Regions from separate parts of the Homo sapiens genome. Here region 2 is linked to region 1. Evidence: fine-mapped expression QTL. A gene starts in region 1. The other region holds a variant in brackets. All regions are shown on one strand. Distances are between the middles of the regions. Region 1 holds the start of BLCAP (BLCAP apoptosis inducing factor). Region 2 has its middle 27 kb from the start of NNAT.

Region 1 (8,331 bases):
GATGGTGTTTCCACAGCCTGGAACTGAGCTGGGAAGGTGGAGCAATCTTGAGGACAGAGGGGAAAGGGTCCAGCTGAGCAGGAGCGAGTTCCATGTGCATTAGAAGCCCTGCCTCAGCTTCCCCAGTTTTCTGGGCCCCAGGGAGAAAGGGCTGGCCACTGAGGCCTTGTACATGCTAACACTCAGCCTGAAGTTACTGGAAGGTGGTATCCCGCAAAACAGACCTGATCCTTGTTTAGCAGCATGTCACATTCCATGGGATGGCAGGACCCCTTCCTTTCTTCCATTTTTCTTGTTTCTGTTTTTGAGATGGAATCTCGCTCTGTCGCCCAGGCTGGAGTGCAGTGGTGCCATCTTGGCTCACTGCAACCTCCACCTCCCAGGTTCAAGTGATTCTCCTGCCTCAGCCTCCCGGGTAGCTGGGATTACAGGCGCGTGCCACCACACCCAGCTAATTTTTATATTTTTAGTAGAGACAGGGTTTCACCATGTTGGCCAGGCTGGTCTCAAATTCCCGATCTCATGATCCACCTGCCTTGGCCTCCCAAAGTGTTGGGATTACAGGCGTGAGCCACCACACCCAGCCCCTTTCTTCTATTTTTCTTGAGGTATAACATACGTAAAGTATATAAAGCCCCCAGTCTTTTTTCTTTCTTTCTTTCTTTTTCCCCCGAAACAGGGTCTCATTCTGTCGCCCAGACTGGAGAGCAGTGGCACGATCTTGGCTCACTGCAGCCTCTGCCTCCCGAAGTCCCCTAGTCTTATGGTGAATTTTTACTTGATGAATTTTCACTTACATAATCACCAGCCAGAAGAAGATATAATCCTTCCAGCATCCCAGAAAAGCTCCTCTTGCTCCTTTCCCATCCCTACTCCTGACCTGACCCAGGTAACTACCATTTTGATTTCTAACCCTATAGATTAGTTGAGCTTTATATGAATGGATTCATATGGTATGTACTGTTTTGTATCTGGCTTCTTTTAGTCCACATACTATATGTGAGATTAACTGGTGCTATTACATGTAACAGTAGTTTGTTCTTTTATATGTAAAACACAGTATTCCATTGCATGAACATGCCACAATTTATCCATTCTCCAGTGATGGACATTGAACTATTTCCAATTTGAGCTATGAATAAGTCTGCTATGAACATTCTTGCACAAGTCTCCATGTAAACATAGGCACTCATTTCTCTCGGGTACATACCTAGGAGTGGAAATTCTAGATCACAGCATAGGTGTATGTTTAGATTTTGTAGATGCTGGTTTTCCAAAGTGGCTGTACCAATTTGCTCTGCCGTCAGCACTGCAAGAATTTGTTGCTCCACAGCCTCTCAACATTCAGCTCTCTTTTTCTTTTTTTGTTAGTTTTTATTTCATAATCATAAACTCTGCAATCCACCTGGGCATGGAAGGGAACAAGGAAAACATGAAACCCAAAGGGAACTGCAGCGAGAGCACAAAGATTCTAGGATACTGGGAGCAAATGGGGTGGAAGGGTGCTCTCCTGAGCTACAGAAGGAATGGTCTGGTGGTGAAGATAAAACACAAGTCAAACTTATTGGAGTTGTCTACAGTCAGCAATGGTGATCTTCTTGCTGGTCTTGCCATTCCTGGACCCAAAGCGCTCCATGGCCTCCACGATCTTCATGCCTTCTTTCTTCTTTCACCTTGCCAAAGACTACATGCTTGCCATCCAACCACTCAGTCTTGGCAGTGCAGATGACAAACTGGGAACCGTTTGTGTTGGGTCCAGCATTTACCACGGACAAGATGCCAGGACCTGTATGCTTTAGGATGAAGTTCTCATCATCAGATTTCTCCCCACAGATGGACTTGCCACCAGTGCCATTATGGCATGTGAAGTCACCACCCTGACATATAAATCCTGGAATAATTCTGTGAAAGCAGGAAACCTTTTAACCAAATCCTTTCTCTCCAGTGCTCACAGCACGAAAGTTTTCTGCTGTCTTTGGAATCTTGTCTGCAAACAGCTCGAAGGAGTAGGGGCCTAAGGGCGCGTCATCGACAGTGATGTCAAAGAACAAGGTGGGGCTGACCATGGCTGATAGTATGGGGATCCCAGCGGCATCTGCAAAGCCAGCTCTCTCTTTTTCTAAACAAGAGCTTCCACTACAAGACTCCTCTTGTCATTCAGTGTTGGATACTGGGTGTGGCTGCCATGGATGCATTGATCCTTTAGCCTGTAAGCAGCAGGATGGTGGGAGGCCACATTCAGGCCTGTTTTGAGTCTCAGCTGGAGGAGAAATGGACATCTCCTTGCTTTGGATGTGACCTCAGGAACTGGATAGCCATCTTGTGGCCATGAGCATAAACCAGCACAAGGACAGAAGATAAAATGAACCTCAGTCCTTGATGACACTGCCTAGCCACTGAGTGGCAGGCTACTTATTTTTTTAAGCCACTTGATGTAGTTGTGTGTTTAACTTGCAACATAAAAGATACAGTCCACCAACCTTCTTTATTCCCAAACCCCAACGGCTCCATTTCTGTTCTCAACAGCATCAGCCCCACTGAGCACTCCCTCCTTCCTGAAACCTCCTCTCTAGGACCCACACTCACTTGGTCCTCTTTCTACCCCACTGGCCACTGCTTCTTAGTCTCCTTTCCCGGATCCTCCTCTTCTTTTCTCTCCACCTTCTTTCACTTGCGTTCTCACCCAGCACCATGACCTTTGTATTGATGGCCCCCAAATATGTATCTCCTGCCCCAGCCTCCGTTCGCAGCTTCTGTGTCACATAAACCTGCCTACTCACCCTCTCTGCCTGCATGTTGCCCCGACATTTCAAACTTAACTTCTCAAAGCCGAACTTGATCTTCCCCCTCAGTCCGTTCCTCTTTCAGGCTTTATTGTCTTGGTCAAGGAATCTTTTACCCTTTCATTTACTCAAGGCTAAAACCTAGCGAGGAGTTATTGCCAATGCCTCCACATCCACCCAAGTCCAATCTTCCACCCTTCCCTTCACCTCCCCAAGCTACCACCCTGTCTGAGTCAGCATTGGCTTTTGTCTGGAAAGCTGCAACCACCTCCTAACTGGTCTGCCTACACCCACTCCTGAGTGCTTTCCAAGCCATGCGGCCTGGGTGGCCTTTCAGAAATCCTAATTTGCTATCCTCTTCCTGATGAAAATGGCTTCCCTGACTCTCAAGAGAAAAGCCAAATTCAGTATGTAGCTGACCTGTTTTCTTCTGTGCTCACCTCACCCCAACTCTGCCGCTTCCCAGCTCCAGATCTGGGACAAATGTTCTTTCTGCCTAGAACATTTCCCCTCTCACTCTTACCCTAATCGTCCTTTGTTTCTCAACCTAAATGCCATCTTCCCAAGGAGGTTCCACCCTTTCCCTACATTAGTACTCCATTAATTTCTCCTAACACTCTCTACTTCTTCTCACAGCACTTCCCATGATGTGTAATTATGTATTGATTAAAGTCACTAATATACAGTGATTATATGACTGTCTCCCCGCCTACCCGCCATTAGACTGGCAGTGCCTTGAGGTCAGGGACAGACCCAGGTTACCGACTCTACCTGCCCTTAGCACTGCGCTTGGGTACAGTAAGCGCCCAAGGAATATGCTTAATTAGCTAATAAATGACTACACGGACTCATTCAAGCCTCATAAAAGCCCTAAGGTGGGCATTTCAACAGAAGCCGGGTCGGGGTGGGCGAGGGGCTCGCTGGCCCAAGGTACGGGGCAAGTGGGGGAGCCGAGGCCTGACCCAAGGCAGTCCCAAGTTCTGAGCCCGGACCTTTCAGCTCCTGAGCCTTGGCTGCATGATGAAACGCTAGGGAGGGGGTGGACTTTGAGCCACGAGAAGGTTTTCCCGGAGTCCACGGACCATCCACGCGGGCAAGAACGAAGCGGGTTCACCAACATGAACACAACCCGGCCCGCCCAGCGCTCACGGAGTAAGGATCACAATCTGCTGCATATGCATGAGGGGACCCGGCCGCGCTTCGGGGCTGTCCACACTGCGCCTGATAAAAATTATTCGGGCTTGAAGATCTCGGGGCTCCCAGAGTTTTGTAAAAGTGCATACAAAGTCCTCAAAGGTGGTCTGTGGCTGATATTTACGGGAAATGGGGCGAGGATGAGCCCCCACTTCGGACCTTGTGATCAGGCGTTTGCGGTAGACAGCCCGATCCCAGGATGGGTCCTCGGCCGGCTCGACTAGAAGACTAAGGGGGCGTCTCCCCGGCTTCCTGCGGCGTCGGTGGCGAGCTGAGGTGGAGGCAGGCTGCGGCAGACGGCGACAGTGGCGGCGGCGCCATGGCAGGGCTTGCAGGTACCGTGGCGTCAACCTGCTTGGGGCGGGATGAGAGGCCCTCCATGCGGCCGCGCCGCCATATTGTCCCTTCTGGGTCACCTTAGGCGTCGCCGGGTCCCCGTCACTGGGGTTTTCCTTCCGCATACCCCGGGAAGGCAGGGCGCCCCTGTCCGGCTTCAGGTGATTGCCGTGATTGGACCTAGCCTGGGCCTTGGGGGGTCCCTTCCCAGCCCGGAGGTGGGTCATAGTACTCCTGGGTGCTGGCTCTGGCCTTGTCCAAGGTCAGCGCCCTTGCAGGATGAGACAGGCAGAGCCGGGGGCACGGGGCTGGGAGCGCGACCACCATCTCTGCAGCCCCGGGTTCCACGGCAGGGTGCCCAGCTTGTGAGAGGCCTGTCATTCTGTCCCCATCAGTTTAGTTGCGTTGCTTTAGTTGCTTTTTTGGGGGGGAGGTGGGGGGACGTGGGGGTGAGGGGAGAGAGGGTCTCCTGAGGCTCCGCTTCGGTGTCTGGGGTGATAGGCTGACGCTCTGCTAAGAGTCGCGGGCGCTTCTTACTCCCTCCAACTTTACATCAAGGGTGGACATCCCTTCCCTTTCCTTCTATAGACGTGGGGAGTGGCCCTCAAGGGCAGCTGAAGGAACGGAATGCCTGGCGCACTAATGGCCTGGAAAGGAAGCATGGGGGATGGGGGACAGTTGTTTTTTCCTTCCCCTTTCCAAATCTCCTTTAGTTTCCTTCCAGGCCTCCGTGTCCCATTTCATCGCCGAATGTTGGGAGACTGGGGTCTGTCCTCGGAAAGAAACAGCCTTTCTGTTTATAGGTTTGGATCGTCTATCCCTTTCAGGGAACTGGTGTGTTGGGGACGGCTTCTCTGCCCTGCCTGACATGGTCCAGTCATCCCGTCAGCCTTCTGGACGGCAACACCAAAGCTGGGACCAAAAAAAAGTTCCAGCTTAAGTGCTAATGCCAAGTGTTAGATCTTGTTTGCTTGTTTGTTTTAAATCAGAGACTAATTAATGTCAAGCAAATCTGTTAAAAGATTTGATCACGGGAAGCCTGGTCGGTTTCCAGTGACCAGGTCAATTCCATATCTGAAATTAGTCTTGTTAGAGTTGCTGCCAAAAACAGTTTAACCTTTAATCTGTAATATGTTGTTTCAAAGAGGAATCTGGGTTAGACTGTCTTTTTTTGTTGTTGTTCTCCTATCTTTGAAACACATGCATTCCATTTCAAGCCTGTCCCTGTGCGATATACCAAGAACCACGCGTTGCCTGCCTCTCTGACTTCCTGCTCTGGAAATGCTCAGGAATCTGGATCCTGCTGGGGCATGCATGGGCCCTGTGGGAGGGCAAGTCGGGGAGGGGAGGATAAACAGGATCACTCCCAGGGAAGATGGTGACAACGTGTCTCTGGGGCATATAGAGGAAGTCAGAGGTTACCGGGGGGAAAAGAGATTGTTGTTTGACTAGTGTTTTGTGTATGTGCATGAGTGCACACGTTTAAATCTCTGAGGGGGGGTGGGGGCGGTGGGGGGGGGAAGTTAACTGCAAATTCAGAATCTCCCTTTGGGGTGTTGGCTCCTGAGGAGATACACATTTCAAAATAGATATCTAGTAAATGGCTCACAGCAAACCTGCTCCCCGATCCAACAGTAATCCGTTGCCCAAGCTCAAGGAACTTGCCCCTGCCCTTCCCTGACAGCAGACATCCCTTCCTTCAGTGACAATTCAAATATTCCACAGATAAAGGTAACAGTGTCACATAGCACCCTGCACCCCTAAAAGTCATGGTACCTAAACACCTCTGGACTTAACTTCAGTTCGTTAGGCTAAGAAACTAACATCCTGGAGTATTAGTCTCAAGGGTCTCTCACCTGTTGCTGGAGTCCCACAGAGCTATTCCCAATTCCTTCCCAACCGATCTGCTCTGTCCTTGGCCTTGTGGGGGCAAAGTCTTCTGGGAGCAATGATGGTTTAGGCAAAGGGGACGTTCAGCACTGTGACTAAGGGCTGTGCAGTAAAACACTAGTCATTTTCAATTCTTCGCATTGCTCTCTATCAGAATAAAATGTTTAATGGTATAGTTTGTGGAAAAAATTTTATAAACAAGGTGTGTTTGGACCATCTAGGCATTGCATGGCATTGCACTGGATGGAAAGTGAATGCACTGTCTTCTCTGGTGGGTTAAGTTTGCTGCCAGAACATGAAGTTTTGTGGGTGGAGGATGCAAATGGGGAGTGGACATTGCACATTGAAGCCCACACGTGCAGGTGCAGGCCACCAGGGCAGCCCTTGCCTGGAAATCTGTCATCTCACCTTGCCACACTCACAGCCCTGCTGATGGACGGATGGAGGAAAAGGGCTTTGCCAAGATGATATGGAAAGCTCTGGGGCTACCAGGAGCCTCTTGTCCTCTAAGTGGGGGCACAAGAGGTGCTGTGTCCAGAGCAGCCAGCTCTTACCATGCTGCTTTGGCCTACCTCCCTGAAATCTGCTACCTTGTCACTTGGGCTGAGGTTAGAGCATCAAGAAGGGCAGTGGGGCTATGGGCATACCCCTCAAAAGCTCCGAAGGGAGGGTCAGCCTTCATGGAGAACACATGTTGGTATGTTCATGATTCTGTGGGTTTAGTGTGGAAAACCACAGAAACTCCCAGTTTTGAGGCCTGCCAAGATATGGGGTTCAGAAGGGAGGAGGTGTGGGCATTGCCTGCTGATGAGTCACACTGGGGCGAGAGGAGACCTGCCTCACCTTCAGGCTATGGTAGCAGCTATAGCCACCCAGCCTAAGAAAGATGAAGTCTCAGATTGCACATCCTCTTCAAGTCCTGATGAGTCCTGATTGCCACTGCTATGGCAGTTTCTAGCGTGTTAGGGTTCACTGGCATCTCAAAGGCCCTCTTCGAGAGGGAAACTGGAGATGAAGGGTACAAGGTGACATGTCCAGGTTCCCTAGGCTGATTGATGGCAAAGTCAAGACCAGAACCGGGATCTGCACCTCCCCACCCCTATAATTCTCTGATACCGAATGAAGTTTTAGATGCCTTTAGAGGTGCTGGTGATTGGGCTAAGAAACTTAAGGGCTTGCTTAGGGGAGGGAAACATGATCAGGCTTAAGGGGGCAAGGTACTTTGTGCTTCAGAAGTATTTGTGACAGCTGTGACTAAGGGATTCGAAGAAGTGGCAGGAAGAGAGATTTATGGCCCTCCAACTCCCTCCCTTGGTGTTGACCCAGCAACAGGTGTGTAGTGACAGGGACACATAAAGCCAGAGACAAGGCTGAACAGGCGGCAGGGCCATTTGGTGAGACAGTCAGCTGACCCCGTGTAGAAAGAGCCCTGACTCACTGGGGAGTGGGAGAGGAAGACAAGTCCGAGGCCGAGCACTGCCCACCCTGACGTGATGGCAGGGGAGAGCCCAGGGCCACGGACCTGGTAAGCATTCCTAAGAATACGGAGGCTGGTGCTGGGAAAAGCAGAAACCCAGTATTGGGGAGAGAGGTTTCTGGGGTGAGGTGGGGCCAGGAGACCCTGCAGAGTAGCAAGGCCAGGCAGATTGTCTTTGTAGTGGTCCTGGTGGATGTGGGGCCTGCAGCATTAAGCTGGGTGAAGAAGGCGCCACGCTGCACCTCTTATCCCATACTCATTGTCTAAGCCACTGTCCACCCTGCCCACTACTCATTTCTTTGGGGCTCCTGGATGGAGACCTGAAGTAAGGCTTTGTGTTCTGAAATCACCCCCTTGGTCCCTAGTACCTCTTTGGAGGGCTACTCCCACCTTTTTCCCCTCCTCTCATCTTTCCCAAAGTGATACTTGCTTTGGCCCCTTATCCTAAGACCACAAGTAAAGCACCTATCCCTTTGGGGAGGGGGAAGTGGTCCCTTATTCCAGGACCACAAGTGAAGATGTCAGCCTTTCTCTTTGGGGAGAGGGGGAGATGGTCCTTTATCACAGGACAGCATTGAGATGGGGTTGGGTGTGTGAGGGGCCCAGCTTATTGCAATTTTGATGGCCCTCCTTTTCCTCCCTCCCCCAAGC
Region 2 (8,331 bases), 34 kb after region 1:
AGAAACCACATTGCATGTTCCTTTGTGGTGGGATATCTCTGGGAGTGATTGGGAAATGGAATGTTGGGTCTTAATATGTCCACAGTTTTAGTTTTAGCAGATACTACCACTGTCCTCCATGATTTCTGTACCATTTAAGCTTCCAGCCAGAGGGTATGAGAGGGCTGTAATCCCCACACCCATAGGCGGTTGTTTTAAATATTTGCCAATCTCATGGGTGAAAAATTGAATCCTTTTTAAAATTTGTATTTTCCTGTTTGCTTGTGAGATTTTCATATGTATATTGAGCATTTGTATTTTCTCTTTTCTGAATTGCCTGTTATTTTTTCTCATTTTAAGCATTAGGTTGTCTTTATCCCACTGGCTTGTGGAGTTTTGTAATATAATCTGGATATTGATCTTTTGTAGATATGTGACAAATATTTTCTTCCAGCTTGTCATTGCCTTTAACTCTTTGTAGAATCTTTTGTTAGAAGTTATTAGTTTTGACATAATCCAATTTATCAATCTTTTCCTTTGATCCTTTTTTATACAGATACCATGTTTAGTCCTTCCCTACTCCTAAGATTTAAATATATTATTTCTTCTTTTCTAATAATTTTATAATTTTGTTTTTATTTGGTTCTTTATGCATCTGGAATATATTTTGATTATCATATTGATATATGATCTAACCTTTCTCCAAACGGGCAGCCAATTATTGCAGTATGAGGGGTTGACTAGTTCTTCCTTTCCCCTCTGACCTGAAGTAAAACTCCCTGATATTCTGAGTCAGGTGTGTCTGAAGCCCCTGTTTTTCCCAACAATCCATTTATTCCTTTCAGTACAAGACTGTTTTCTTTGCTGTCCCACCTTTTGGTATCTGTGAAGTCAAATGCCATGTTTCGTTGTGCTTCCTTCTCAGCTCTCTTAGCTAACTAGTACCGCACACTAACTCCTCCACATGAATTGTAAAGCCAGCTTGTCAAGTTGGAGAAATTGACATCAATACAATACCGAGCCTTTGAATTCATGAATACAGTAGAGCTCTACGTTTATTCTTATTATCTTGTATGTCCTTCACTCATGCACTGTTGTTCTCCCCATAAAGAACTTGCCCATTTCCTAATGGGTTTATTCCTATACTTTTTATTATTGTTGTGAATTAGTTTTCTCCAGCCCCCTTTTTTGTTTTGCTTTTGCTTGCTACATTTCTTTTTCATCTGCTTACTAATCACTCTACTTCATTCACAGGCACACACAAAGTAAATATTCCTCCTCCCTGGGCACAAACATGCAAGCACATCCAAACACACGGAGCCCACGTTATTGGCTGAAAATAAATAGTAATTTTTTAAAAAATTGAAGTCGAATGACACAAGCAAAACATGAATACGTTCCCCTTTTTTAAAAAAGAGAACATTGCAGATGAAGCTGGAGTCCCTTTTGGCCACCCACTGCCACCCTATTCCCTTCCTCCTCTCCAGAGGTAACCACAGTAATGGGCTCAATGTGGACTTTTCTAGACGTTTCTAAAAACTTACATATATAGATACCCAGAGGAAATATATGGTATACTTAAATAATGAAAATGTTATCTTTCTAGTTTTCATTAATATTCAACTTTTGTATTGACCTGAATTTTATTATGGTTGCAGAATAGAATGTCAACATTATCATCTGTCACAATGTGAAAGTAAAGATATAAAAGTTGGGAGGTAGCAGTGAAGGGAAGAGGGTAGGAAGGTTGACAGGGACAATAGTGGGGAGGCAAGAGCTTCTGTGGACATGTGGTAGAATAAGGAATGAAGGGGCAAGTAGGTTTCTTAAAAAGATAACCAACAGAGGTACTTAAAGACTGTGTTAGGAGAGGTAGGGATAGAGGGGAGTAGTTTCCAAGTGACCCAATGCCTAATCCACTGGGACATCAGTGGATCTTATGAACTAGAAATGGGGTGTAGCAGATGCTGTCTAGAGGGCTCCCATGACCCAGTTTTGACTTGGGACTTGTAAGGGGATATCTTCAGGCAGTTTCAGGGAAACACTTTCCTCCCTAATTAAAGAGATGCATGTGGGGCCAGGCACAGTGGCTGTCGCCTTGTAGTCCCAGCACTTTGGGAGGTTGAGGCGGGCAGACTGCTTGAGCCTAGGAGTTCGAGACTAGCCTGGGCAACATTGTGAAGCCCCATCTCTACAAAAAATACAAAAGTTAACCAGGCGTGGTGGCATGCACCTGTGGTCCCAGCTGCTCAAGAGGCTGAGGTGAGGAGATTGCTTTAGCTTGGGAGGTTGAGGCTTCAGTGAGCTACTACCATGCCATTCTACTCCAGCCTGGGTGGCAGAGTGAGACCGTGTCTCGAAAAAAGAAAAGAAAAAGAGGGATGCACTTGGAGAAGTTTCTTGGCTGCCCCCTTTCTTTCTGCCTAGGTGCTGTTGAGTGAAAACATAGTGCTTGGAGCCCTGACAGCTATCTATCTTGTGACCAGGAGGGGAAGGCCAGGAGACTCATGGTTCTCTGTTCACTCAGATCTCAGATACCTGGAACCACTGACTTTTGAACTTTTCATTACTTGAAATAAATGTTCTTGTTGCTTAGCCACTTTTAGGTGATATATTACGTTCTGGTGAAAGCATTCTTCCTAATACAAGCTGAGAGCTTACAGCTAGGAGACAACCTCCAGGAGCAGAGATCACACACTCTCGGGTAAGAGTTTGGGGTTGGGAGAGGGTCCATCCCGAACTTGCTGCTCTTCATCAAAAGCCCTTCTATTCTCTTGGATTAAAAAAAAAAATTCTGATAAGCCAGGCACATCATGCACCTGTATTCCCACCTACCTGGGAGGCTGAGGCAGGAGGATCACTTGAGCCCAGGAGCTCAAGGCTGCAGTGCGCTGTGATTGTGCCTGTGAATAGCCACTGCATTCCAGCCTGGTCAGCAGAACCAGGCACTGTCCCTAAAAACAAACAATTCTGATAACAAGTGTGTCAAGATGTGAACAGTGGTTGCCTCTGGGTACATTTGGATACTTTGCAGTTTTCTAAGATGTTGTCAAATGTTCTTAGGAGCTGACACATAAGAGAAGCTAAGTTTTGACTCCAGAAAAGGAAAGGCCCACAGCTGGTGAGACTGCCCAGGTGAAATCCTAGATGGATTCAAGGGGCGTTAGAGCTGGGGATGAGGAGCAAGCTGTGGGTGGATCTCACCTCACCTGATCCTGGAGGGCCAGCAACCTTCCTGGGTTCTTAAGGGAACTGCAGGGAGTCCAGCCGATTTGAGACACACAGGGTTGGGGGCATGGGTGTGGCAGGAGGGAGATCAGTGACAGATCAGGCTGGCTGCACCTGCAGTGCTGCTGTGTCATGACAAGAAGTGAGCTTCTATCCAAGGGTAATGAGGAACCAGTGGCCGTTTTTTCTTTTGTTTTGCTTTTTAATGGACGGAGTCTCACTCTGTTGCCCAGGCTGGAGTGCAGTGGCATGATCTCGGCTCACTGCAATGTCTGCCTCCCAGGTCAGCGATTCTCCTGCCTCAGCCTCCCGAGTAGATGGGATTACAGGCGTGTGCCACCACGCCCAGTTAATTTTTATATTTTTAGTACAGACAGGATTTCACCATGTTGGCCAGGATGGTCTCGAACCCCTGACCTCAGGTGATCTGCCCATCTTGGCCTCTCAAAGTGCTGGGATCACAGGCGTGAGCCACCATGCCTGGCCGTGGCTGTTCTTAAGCAGGGAGACAGGTGTGATCACTTTCATTTAGTTAAGTTTCTTTGCCAGTGGAAGAAGCTCAACTGAAACCAGCTCAGGCACAGAAGGAACTTAATTGGCTTCTATACGCAAACCACAGGCCAAGCTAGGTTCAGTTGACCTTCCGGTCCCCCGGGGCCAGGGACTTAACTGGCAGCCTGCCCCTCTCCCATCTCCATGTCTCCACGTCTCTTTGCCTGCCAGCTCCCTCTCTCAGGGATGCCTCTTCCACACACTGGCGTTCGTGACTGCCAATGTTTCACACCTCTCAGGTTCATGACCACAAAGAGATCGAGGTAGGAGCGCAGGAACTTGGTTAAGCATCAGGGCTACTTGCTTACTCATTGTTTTGTCTAATTTCTCTGTCTTCAGTGTCCTCACATAGGAAATGGGGATAACAACAGCACCAGCTTAATGCTGTGAGGGTCAAAGGAGATGATGTCCATCAAGTACTTACCTCGGGGATGGACACTAAGTGCTCCATACATGTTATGAGCTCTCTCTGTTCCCAAGTCCAGAAATCTAGACAAAAGCTTCCATTGGCCCAGTTGAGTTGGGGTTCACCTCTGGCAAATCAATGATGGCCATTAAAGTGGGTTGTGCAATAAATGAGAAGGTGAATTTCAAAGCAAATAGGTTGGGGTGCAGAATGATTTCCAAGAAGGATTGGC[G/A]CAGTTCTAGAAAAAGAACAGAGGTCATCCCTCTGGCTGCCAGCAGAAAAGGGTTTGATCAGGCCCCAACAGCCTGGAGGTAGGGAAGTACCTAAGAGGCACCACAGTTGTCCAGGTGAGAAATAACGCAGGTCTGAGCTAAGCAACAGTGCAGATGGAGAGAAGGCGGAGGCAAGAGAAGTTTTGGAGGTAGAAATAGGGGGCATGGTGCCAAGTGCACGGGAGAGATGAGACAGAATGAAAGGTTGAAGGTGGCCCCAGGTGCTAGCCCAGAAACCTACAAACAGAGCCTCTCCAAAATGTTGCTTCATTACTCAGGTTAACTCTTCCCAACACCACTGCCACTCCATTCTGCTCAGTAGCACAAACTTAGTTGAAGGTAAACCCAGCCACATCTGGACATTTCAAAAGACTATCTTAAGTAGATTCTTGGTCCACTTCCAGCTCCTCTGCTTCCCACTGCTCCTTCTCCTTGTGGGTAGTCAGTGTTCTGGGAGCTTCTATTCTGACCTGGCACCAGGGGCATACAAGTGATTCAGGTCTGCCAGCAACTATCCACTGCCATCCACTGAGCCACAGAATCCCTACTAAATCTTTGTCCTGACCATGAGGCACCTCCAAGTCCACCGGCTACACTCACCCTCTTCTCTACACCCTCACCATCACCACCGTGTTACAAAGACAAACAGGACCCTGGAGGACACCTCCCAGCCACCTTCTCCCACCAGGGGTCCTCAGCCTCTCTCCAGCCCATGCCAGGAGCTTGTGTTCTCTCAGGCAACACCTGAGGAGCCAGGCAACAGTCCCTTCTGCTCTGGGATACCTCAAATTTACTCTGGGAGCTCTAGTATCTACTATGAGCTACATCTCTTTGTGATTCCTTTATTCCCACTAGCTGGTCAAACTTTTATTTCCTTTTAGGCAGAAAAACAGCTTCTGTATTCTTCCCTGTTTACCATTCTGGCATCAATTTCAAGTGCTCAGTCCCTCAAGCTCTTTCCTCTTTACAAAAGCCCGGCTACTGCAACAAAGCATCCTGTCTGCTGTAAGTTTCAAGAGACTCTTTGAAACTACTGACCATCTTTCTCACTGCATTCATGCTGCAACAACCCAAATCCTGCAAAGCTCTGACTGAATCAGGAAAAAGTGACCTTGGTAGCTAGTCTCCAAAGATGGCCACCACCAATACTTGCCTTCCTGCGATATATATCATACTCCTTGTATCAGGAAGAGAAGTGTAATTCCCTCCCCATGAATCTAGGCTGGCCTTAGTGACTTTCTTGGCCAATAGAATATAGCAGAAGGCACATTCTGGGATTTGTAAGACTAGGTCGCAGGAAGCCTTATGGCCTCTGCCAGGCCTCTTGCAATGCTTGGCCTTGGAACACTCCCTCCTACAAGCCAGCTGCCATGCTATGAGAAGTGCAGGTCCTGTGGTAAATCCACATGTGGTCACTCCAGTCAACGGTCTCAGCAAGCCCCCAGCTGACTGTCAACTATGTGAATGAGCCTGCAGATGACTCCAGCCCCAGCTGCCATCTGACTGCAGCTGCATGAAACACTTAAGCAAGAACCACCTTGCTGAGCCCTATCAACCCCGGAACCATGAGGAATAATAAACTGTTTTTGTTTTTGTTGTTGTTGTTTTTGAGACAGGGTCTTTCTGTGTCATCTAGCCGGAGTACAGTGGCACAATCATGGCTCAATGCAGCGTCGGACCTCCTAAGCTCAGGCAATCCTCCCACTTCAGCCTCCCAAGTGGCTGCAACTATAGGCGTGCACCACTACACTTGGCTAATTTTTGTATTTTTGATAGAGATGGGGCTTCCCCATATTGTCCAGCCTGGTCTCAAACTCCTGAGCTCAAGTAATTTGCCTGCCTCGGCCTCCCGAAGTGCTGGGATTACAGGTGTGAGCCACTGCACCTGGCCAATAAATTGTGTTTGTAAGCCACTAATGTTTGGTGTAGTTTGTTGTGCACCAACATGGTGATGGGCAAGGAAGTGTGGTGGGGGGTGGGGAAGCACATCAAATAATATATAAAATATGATCCTACTACACAGCATTTAAATGGACCATCATAGTACAGTATGGTAAGTGCAGTAACGAAACATAAATATGCACAGAACTTTCCAGAAGAGGTGACCATTGGTCTTAGGGTGACTTATCTCCTTAGAGATGAGCAGGAATGAGCAAGCTAGAAGGAACTGGAAAGACCTTTTAAACAGAGGGAACAGCACAAGCATAGCCTTGGGAATGAGGAGCAGCAGGAGTGAGCTGGAGGGTATTTGGTGTTCCTGGACTATGACAAAAGAAGGAGGGGATGGGAAGAGCAAGATGAAGTGGACAGAGACCAGACCCTGCAGAGCCTTGGATGCCCCCATGTCAAGGAGTTTGGACACTGTCCTGCAGTCACTGGGCACTGTTGAAAGTTTTTACACTAGAGTGATGCATTCAGATTTGTTATTTGGGAAGACCACTGAGATGGTCAGTGTGAAGACTATATTTGGAAGAAGATAGTCTCTAGGCAGGGAGACCAATTTAGAAAATAAAGTCAGAAATGCATAAGGATTGTTGGCTGTTGGGGTGAGAGAGAGGGTAGAACCAAGGGTGATTCTCGTGTGTCTTTGGGTTCCTTGGCAGATGGTGAGGAGGTGCTTGAGATGGGGAACACAGCATGGTAGCCAGTTTGGGTGGGGGGAATGGGCTCAGTCTCAGAGAAGTAGAGATGAGGGGCCGGGGGTACAGCCAGGAGGAGGTTAGCAGACAGCTGGATGCCAGAGCTGGGACTCAGGAAGAAATCTGACTGGAGGGACCAACCTGGGGACAGAAGTTAATGGGACTCCAGGAATGAGCAAGACCATCAGGCAGAGAGTGTAGAGGGAAGATGGGAGGTGGAGAGTGTAGAGGGAAGATGGGAGAGAGCTCATAGCATCATGAGTCCCGGAGACATGTGAGGGGCTGACGGAGGTGTGGGTGGGTGACAAAGGAGAGAGGAAAAGGAAGGACCTGAGCAATGAGACAAATAACTAGGAGAGGAGGTTGCCATAGCAACCAAGATAGGGAAGAGTTTCAGGGAGAAAGTAATCACCACAGCTCGATGCCCCGAATCTCAGAAAAATAAGAAGCAGAAAGTCCTTTGAATCCAGCAATCGGGGGCTCCTATGAACCTTGGCAGGAACTGTTTTGGGGGCAAAGGGGTAAAAGCTAGCTTCCCCAGGGTCAACGGACTGAATAGGTGGAGGAGTGGCAGAACCTTCCTTAGAGAAGGTTGGATGACTAGGGAAGGAGTTGAATGGTAGCAAGAAAAATGTGAGCGATCAAGGGAGGGTTTTTGAAAACAGGAGAAACCCTAGAATTTCCTGGTCTTGAAAGAGGATGAGGATGAAAAGAAGAAAGACTTGTAAGTGAGCTGGGATCTATCCTCTGAGCCCGGCTGAAAGGAAACAAGTGGGTCTGATTGGAGATGTCTCAAGGGAAGAGAGCAAAGCATGGAAAAGACCTTTGTGGTGCACTTTCTGATCCTGAAAAAGTTAAAATTGATTATCAAATTCTGTAGGGTGGTTAAGAAAGGAAAAGGGTGCATTGAAATGAGTAGCTAGGAGGTCATTTGGTGACTGGTCCGGATAGCCTTTGCTGTCCCCTCCAAGAGCCATACTCTATCCTCCATCCTGTTCTGTGCCTGGGAGGCCAACCTTAATACTACCCAGACTCCATGCCTTCTGGCTTCTATAGAGGGTCCCTGACTTATGATGGTTCAACTTACAAGTTTTCAACTTTATAATGGGTGTACTGGGGGTATTAAAGCATTTAATGGGCCTGGCACAGTGGCTCAAGACTGTAAGTAATCCCAGCACTTTGGGAGGCCGAGGCAGGCGGATCACTGGAGGCCAGAAATTCAAGACCAGCCTGGCCAACACGGAGAAACCCCATC

Evidence for each region. PIP is the estimated chance that this variant, and not a neighbour inherited with it, causes the effect.
Region 2: its variant is fine-mapped to the expression of BLCAP in whole blood (INTERVAL, PIP above 0.99).

What each region holds. Positions count from the first base shown.
Region 1 is chr20:37,523,774-37,532,104 of GRCh38, reverse strand. BLCAP (BLCAP apoptosis inducing factor) reads left to right here and starts at 4,229. Exons shown (of 2, transcript NM_006698.4): 1 at 4,229-4,312. It also overlaps the pseudogene PPIAP3. RefSeq lists enhancers at 3,937-4,246, 4,337-4,386, 3,708-4,425, 5,143-5,861.
Region 2 is chr20:37,489,937-37,498,267 of GRCh38, reverse strand. No RefSeq gene overlaps it. Among named protein-coding and RNA genes, the nearest start is that of NNAT, 27 kb to the left of the region's middle. The variant G/A (reference allele first, on the strand shown) is at 4,398.